Homo sapiens: one gene and its partner. The protein of the gene in region 1 purifies or fractionates together with the protein of each later gene. This does not show direct contact. Each region holds a gene or a part of one and is shown in the gene's direction. Other genes may lie near its edges.

Region 1 (3,908 bases):
CACCTAGTTTACTAAGGTCCCACGGCAAGTCTAAGTAAGCGTTATCTCTTCTTATGACAAGAAACAAATTGAGGCCGGGTGAGGTGGCTCATGCCTGTAATCCCAACACTTTGGGAGGCCAAGGTGGGTGCATCACTTGGGCCCAGGAGTTTGAGACCAGCCTGGGCAACACGGCAAAACCCCATCCCTTTCCAAAAATACAAAAAAATTGGCCAGGTGTAATGGCACATGCCTGTAGTCCCAGCTACTAGGGAGGCTGAGGTGGGAGGATTACTTGAGCCTGGGAGGTCAGGCTGCTGCCAGCCGCGAGTGTGCCACTGCACTCCAGCCTGGGCAACAGAACAAGATCCTATCTCAAAAAAACAAAAAACCGAAGTTGAAATCTCAAACAACCCTAACAACCTGGGAGCTATCATTCCATTCTCTTTTCCATGGAAAAGAGAGATTTTGTGGGTAACTAGCTTAAGGGTGGAGAGCCAGTTAGTGATGGAGAGGAAATTTCAATCTGGTGGGCCACACTTCAGAATCCGAAATCCCATTATATTGCTTTCCCTTCTCCAGCCTTCCCTGGGATTATCTCAGTTTTCATGAAATAAAAAAAAAAAAAAAAGCAAACCCAATAATTAGAATAATCAATAGAAATGCCCCAACTAGAGCTATGACCAACATATCCATCGTGCCATAAGCAATACTGATGAGCAGTGATCTTGTAAGGCAGAAGAAATCACGGCCTTGGCCGGGCGTGGTGGTTCATGCTTGTAATCCCAGCACTTTGGAAGGCCGAGGCGGGAGGATCACCTGAGGTCAGGAGTTCAAGACCAGCTGGCTAACATGGTGAAACCATGTCTCTACAAAAATACAAAAAATTAGCTGGGCCTGATGGCGGGTGCCGGTAATCACAGCTACTTGGGAGGCTGAGGCGGAAGAATCGCTTGAACCTGCGAGGCAGAGGTTGCAGTGAGCCGAGATCGCGCCATTTTGCACTCCAGCCTGGGCGACAGAGCAAGACTCCGTCTTAAAAAAAAAAAAAAAAAAAAATCACGGCCTTGTTCCGCCTTCTGGGGCAACATGGAGTGAGATCACAGCGCCTGAGAAAGAACTTTGAAAACTGCGGCTGTGCTTTACAAAAATGTATCAGTATTATTAAATGCTGCCTCCACCTTTTAAAAATCAAACTCTAGAAAAAACACTCACCTGTTTGGCCTCTCCGGCCCCTCCCCCTCCCTGCCCTGAACTGCAGCTGTGCGCAGCCAGTTGCCTGTTTTCCTTAAAGGCCTCGGGGTGCTCGTATCTTCTTCAGACGTTCAGCCAAAATTTTTAAAGTGCGGCTGGGGGGAAGGGTAGCGCACTCTGAATTCATTTAGCTCTATCGTTGAAGCCCGGGTTCCTAGATCAGGGCACAAAAACAAATAGAAAAGACAATTTCTGGAAGATTGGAAAACAGCTAATTTTGCAGGTGCTTCGGCATCAGTGGTGGCGATGAATTTAACATCCATGCCGGGGGGGATAAGGTTCAACCGCAGATGAAATGGTTAATACCTTATACGAAATTCACGGCGAAAAATCCTGAAACAGGACATTTAAATTCACTGCCGAGGCTTGGGGGTGGGGTGGGGAGCAGGGATCGGAAACGACGCTAGTGGTTCTTAAATGCGTTTTTACTTGGGAATGCCCGGCAGGGAAAGGAAAGGTCATCGTCTGTTTAATTTCCACCCCCAGCTCTGGACTTCCAGCATTAGCTCGCCGGGCCTCAGCTGTTGTACACACACGGCGAGGGGGGAGGGGAGGGCGGAGGCGCGGAGGAGGGGCCGGCTGGGAGGAATCTGGGCGTCCTGCCGCGCATGCGCCTTGCCTGAGCAACAAGTGGGCTCCACAGAGGAAGTGTAAAGGGGAGGGGGAAGAACTGGTGCAGAGCATGGCGGTGACGTCAGCGCTCCGCCCGGGCGGCATCCCGCGCGGCCAAGCCGGGGACAGCGCGAGCCGCAGCCGGAGCAGGAGCGCCGAGACGCGCCTCCGGAACGTAGAGTAACAATCACAACCCCACATTCCGGGCGAGCGTGAGCACGAGCGGGAAGGGATGCGACCCGGGCCGAGGCGCCGCGCGAGCGCCCTGCAGCCAACGTGAGCGCCGCCAGCCGCGGCGGCCCGGGCGCCGGCCAGGCCTGGGGGCGGCGGGAGCCTGCGTGCGTGCACTCCTCTCCTCTGCTCTCGTGCGTCCTGGAAGCAGTGGCCGCGGCGGCTCCCTCCGGGGTGCAAACCCAGTCGCCGCCAGCAGAACGGCCGACGCTGCGGAGGGGAGAAGGTCCTTTCTCGGCTGCCACCCCCTCCCCCGGTCCTCCGGGGAAGCAGCGGCTTCAGCAAGATTGGACCCGGGCACCGGGTGGCACTGAACCCTCTGGCCCTCGCCCCAGGGGGCCCGTCGGGGAGAGGACGCAGCTCGTAGGGGGGTCCCCGGGGAGAGGAAGAGACAGCCCCTTTCGAGCTTCCACGCACCAGCCACTCCGGGGAGGGGGCCAAGAGGCAACGGCGGCCACCACCGGGCACCCTCGCCCCCTCCCCTCGGGCCGGGAGCTTCCAGCCCAAGTCTGCAGCACCAGGAAGAAGGCGCCTGAGCTCCCCTCGCGACGAGTCAACCGCAGTAGGAGGTGGGGGCGAAGAGAGGGCTGAACCCGTCCGCTGCCCGGGCGGTGGAGCCCCCACGGCGAGGCGCTGCGCCGGCGGTGGAGACTCGCGTTCCCTCCAGCCCCTGGGGCAGAACTTTCTCGCCCCCCCTCCTCCCTCCCCCGCAGTCGGACTCCCTCCCCAGCCGGCCAGTCCTCCCGGAGGAGAAGGCGCCGCGGAGACAGCCCGGGCGGGGGCCTACCTTCCCCAGGGCAGGCATCATGTCGGCGGCGCAGGTGTCCTCGTCCCGGAGACAATCTTGCTACCTGTGCGACCTGCCCCGCATGCCCTGGGCCATGATCTGGGACTTCTCGGAACCCGTATGCCGCGGTTGCGTCAACTACGAGGGCGCTGATCGCATCGAATTCGTGATCGAGACAGCGCGCCAGCTGAAGCGGGCGCACGGCTGCTTCCAGGACGGCCGCTCCCCCGGGCCGCCGCCGCCCGTCGGGGTCAAGACAGTGGCCCTGTCGGCTAAGGAAGCGGCGGCGGCGGCGGCAGCAGCGGCGGCCGCCGCCGCCGCCGCGCAACAGCAACAGCAACAGCAGCAGCAGCAGCAGCAACAGCAGCAGCAGCAGCAGCAGCAGCAGCAGCAACAACAGCTCAACCACGTTGATGGTTCCAGCAAGCCTGCGGTGCTGGCGGCCCCGTCTGGCCTGGAGCGCTACGGCCTAAGCGCTGCCGCCGCCGCCGCCGCCGCCGCCGCCGCTGCGGTGGAACAGCGCAGCCGCTTCGAGTACCCGCCACCGCCGGTGAGCCTGGGAAGCAGCAGCCACACCGCGCGACTGCCCAACGGCCTGGGGGGCCCAAACGGCTTCCCCAAACCAACACCAGAGGAGGGACCCCCAGAGCTGAACCGTCAGAGCCCCAATTCTTCTTCAGCGGCGGCGTCGGTGGCGTCTCGGCGTGGAACGCACGGTGGGCTGGTTACGGGGCTGCCCAACCCGGGGGGTGGCGGAGGCCCCCAGCTCACCGTGCCCCCCAACCTGCTACCGCAGACGCTGCTTAACGGCCCGGCCAGCGCTGCGGTACTCCCCCCACCCCCTCCCCACGCCCTGGGCAGCCGTGGGCCCCCGACGCCTGCTCCCCCAGGGGCTCCTGGGGGCCCCGCTTGTCTCGGGGGTACCCCGGGTGTATCGGCCACGTCGTCCTCCGCGTCGTCTTCGACCTCTTCGTCGGTGGCAGAGGTGGGCGTGGGTGCTGGTGGTAAGAGGCCCGGCTCGGTGTCGAGCACAGACCAGGAGCGC
Region 2 (3,908 bases), on another chromosome or scaffold:
TCACTGCAGCCTCTGCCTCCCGTGTTCAAACAATTCTCCTGCCTCAGCCTCCCTAGTAGCTGGGATTACAGACACATGCCACTATGCCCGGCTAATTTTTGTATTTTTAGTAGAGACAGGGTTTCACCATGTTGGCCAGACTGTTCTCAAACTCCTGACCTCAAGTGATCCGCCCGTCTCAGTCTCCCAGAGTGCTGGGATTACACGCGTGAGCCACCGCATCCGGACTCCCAAGTAAGATTTCATTAGAACACCTTGCCATGAGTGTGCCTAATAAACCCAATGCAACTATTGCTGGATTTTTTTTTTTTTTTGAGACGGAGTCTCGCTCTGTCGCCCAGGCCGGACTGCGGACTGCAGACTGCAGTGGCGCAATCTTGGCTCACTGCAAGCTCCGCTTCCCGGGTTCACGCCATTCTCCTGCCTCAGCCTCCCGAGTAGCTGGGACTACAGGCGCCCGCCACCGCGCCCGGCTAATTTTCTGTATTTTTAGTAGAGACGGGGTTTCACCGTGTTAGCCAGGATGGTCTCGATCTCCTGACCTCATGATCCACCCGCCTCGGCCTCCCAAAGTGCTGGGATTACAGGCGTGAGCCACCGCGCCTGGCCTATTGCTGGATTTTTAACATACAACTCCTTCAAATTATTTATTCAAATATTATTTTGGAATATTAAAAATATATTTTTAGAATAGTAATTCAAATGTTTAGTTTTTGTTTTTTTTTTTTCTATTTTGTTAACACGTTCTTGATGTGCTGAAAACTGAACATTCAGTGGTTCACTCGTTCAGTAAACAGTTTTTGGGCACCTGAACTTGGTTGTGCTAGGCACTGGGTAATCAAAGTTTAAGCCCCAAGTTCTTCCAATAGCAAATAGTACAGCTGCATGCCACTAGCTTCTTACACACAGGTGGGTGACATACATGCCAAATGAAAATAATTTTACCCTTTCCCTCTATAATTTCAAGTACACTTTTAATTTTTGATATTATAGCCCTATTTGCTTAAACACTCTTCCATCTCTTCTCCTCTCCTTGTCTCCTTTTTTTCTTTTCTTTTTTTTTTTTTTTTTTGAGACAAAGTCTCACTCTGTTGCCCAGGCTGGAGTGCAGTGTCACGATCTTGGCTCACTGCATCCTCCTCCTCTCAGGTTCAAGCAATTCTCCCACCTCAGCCTCCTGAGTAGCTGGGACTACAGGCGTGCGCTACCACACCAGGCTAATTTATGTATTTTTAGTAGAGATGGGGTTTCACCATGCTGGCCAGGCTGGTCTTGAACTCTTGACCTCAAGTGATCCGCCTGCTTCGACTAGGATTACAGGTGTGAGCCACTACACCCGGCCCCCTCGTTTTTTTAAATAAAATTATAACATTAGGTGGGAAAAAACACTTTAAAAGTAGTTCTGTCAACTATTTTGGGGGCTGTGGGCCAGTCATTTAATCCATCTGAACCTGTTTCCTCTGCTGTGAAAGGGTGATACCCTCCTTGCCCTGTCCATCTCAGTTGTTATGGGGATTATGGAAGAAGCTATATGTAACATTAACATCAGAAATTTAAATATCCAGTTAAAGTGTAAATGGATATTATAAAACAATCTTTAAAAGAAACAAAGACACTATATATATATATATGGCTTATGCATCACTAGCACTTTGGGTTTCCGAAACCCCAACATGAAGTTTCACGAAAGTTGCATTCCATGGGAGTTTGCTTCCATGATGGATTTTTTACTTTGTACTTAGCTCCTGAAAAAGAAACTTCCTGGGTTTTCTTTTTTCCTCCTACGGTTTTGCAGCGGCTTGGCTGCTTCCTGTCAAGAGCCACTCTGCCAAGGCCCCGTCTCTAGAGTCTCTCCCCCTCCCCTTTCTCTTTCTTTCCAACACTTGCTACATTGAGAGGCTGATCCTGTGCAGAAGCCCTCCCTGCCTCGGCAGCGCGGCGCAGTGAGCATGCTCGGCCTCCTGCGGGAAGAGGAAGCGGCGGCATAGGAGTCATGCCAAGCATAGCCCTCATGTCAGCGCTGCCGGCTTGCAGCGGGCTGTGAGAGGGGCCGGCGCCGCTTTGTCCTAGGAAACGGGCTGCGCGTTTCTCTTTTTCACTCTTTTCCATTTCCAGGAAGGACTTGTAAGGACTTCTGAAACGCTGTTTTCATACTCGATCGGGGATACAGTACATACACCGTCTACCAGTAAGCCCTTGAAGGGTTTCGTGTGAGCTCGATTTTTTTGTGCCTGATTTTTTTTTTTTTAACTTTTGCATACTTTGTTTTGATAGTCTGAGGCTGGGCCTCTGCCTTTGTGAAGTTGAAGAGCCAGGAGCTACTCAGCAACAATTGATTTTTGAAACTTAACTCTTTTGGGGCAAAAGCAAAGAGCTGGTTTTCTTTGCTAGCCCAATAAATGCTATTTATGAAGATGGACCTGTTGAACTATCAGTACTTGGACAAGATGAACAACAATATCGGCATTCTGTGCTACGAAGGTAGATGTCCCGTTGTAGAATTACTGCCCGTTGCTCGTCCCGGCCACTCCTCCTCAGTGTGCTGGGTGCCTGCCTTCTAAGCGCCCGCTGTCCTCCTCCGGGGTGTAGGGCACTTGAAAGGCCGGCGTTTCTTAGGTTCGGTTCGGCACCGAGTGTGTTCGGATCTCAGGCTGCGGGGGGCGGTGGAGGGGGCTGGACGGGGAGGCAGTGAAGTAGAAACCCTTCAAAGTTTGCTCGTTGCTTGCAACGTACTCGCGCCTCACATTTTTAACTCTTTAAAATGTATGTATTTTTGATTTCCGTTAATATTGTCTTTAGGGGAAGGACTTGTAGGACGCCGGTAAAAGTTGAGCCTCTTTGGGGGAGGGGCTGGTAAGGATTGCACCGTCTACTGTACCCTGCTGTGGGCCACGGCGCCCTGCAGCTCACGGAGGGGGAGCCAAAGTTACAGCGAGTTTTTGTGCTCGCGAGTGAGCGTCCCAAACAGCGGAGAATGTCCCTCTCCCGCGTGGGGCCGGAAGGGCACCGTGTCAGCGAGCACAGGCGGGCTCTTTGTCTCGCTGGCGCTTCCTGTGCAGCCCGGGGAGCGCTGACACTGGGGGGTGTTCCTCGCGCTCCGCTCCCTGTGGGAGCGATTACACAACACCCCGACCCCCAGCCTGCCCTGAAAAAGAGAGAGCCGCGCCGAACTGTTATTTATTACCTCCTACTGCCCGCGAGGTGCTTCCCCCACTGTCTTGTATTTCCAACTGTCTCTGGTAGCAGTCAGAGAAAAATCTATTTCTTAAGCCCTCGGACATCCTCTACGTGCGATTTGAAAAAGTGGCAATGGCCCTGGGTCTGCCGCCGAGGGCATCTCCGGGGGAGTTCGGCCTGGCAGGAAGAGTGTTTTCTGTTGTAACCACACACACATCCGGGACTCTTCTCTTTCTCATTCAGCAGGAGCAGTTTCCATTTTTTCTCCAATAATACACGGGACATTTCTCTTGAAAAAGAAAACAGTTACAAAAACTTGGGAGGGTGATTCACTTGTATTTTTTTAATCTAAAAACTTCAGGCCTGTTTCCTAATCAGTTGAAAACTCACCCTTTCAAGAGTATTTTTCCCCTTCAAGGAAAAAAAACAACAACAACCCTCATTCACGTTGTTTTTTAAAACTCTATGGATGAGGATCTCATATTTAACGTTTTTTAAAAAGAGTATTTGTTTTTCTTTACTCCTACTAGTTCCTGCTATGAGAATTTTCGTGAATTTCTTTCTTTGCATCTGATGTGTTAAGTAACATCTTGCTTCTGAACTCACTTAAAAAAGGCAGCCGACTTTAGAAAGCCGTAAGCAGCCATTGCTGGGCTTGTTTCCCGTGACATTCACACATTGTAGTCAGGGTTTTGTTTTTCTTGTTTTTTTTTTTTTTAACCATCCCCGCT

The links.
Region 2: the proteins of IRF2BPL (region 1) and VGLL4 purify together in Homo sapiens (affinity purification with mass spectrometry; 5 studies listed by BioGRID and IntAct, with this or other methods). This does not show direct contact.

The regions. Positions count from the first base shown.
Region 1 is NC_000014.9:77,026,767-77,030,674, reverse strand, and holds the start of IRF2BPL (probable E3 ubiquitin-protein ligase IRF2BPL), read left to right. Parts: upstream 1-1,966; 5' UTR 1,967-2,882; coding exon 2,883-3,908. UniProt on the Homo sapiens protein: Probable E3 ubiquitin protein ligase involved in the proteasome-mediated ubiquitin-dependent degradation of target proteins. Through the degradation of CTNNB1, functions downstream of FOXF2 to negatively regulate the Wnt signaling pathway.
Region 2 is NC_000003.12:11,642,010-11,645,917, reverse strand, and holds the start of VGLL4 (transcription cofactor vestigial-like protein 4), read left to right. Parts: upstream 1-2,002; 5' UTR 2,003-2,399; coding exon 2,400-2,481; intron 2,482-3,908. UniProt on the Homo sapiens protein: May act as a specific coactivator for the mammalian TEFs.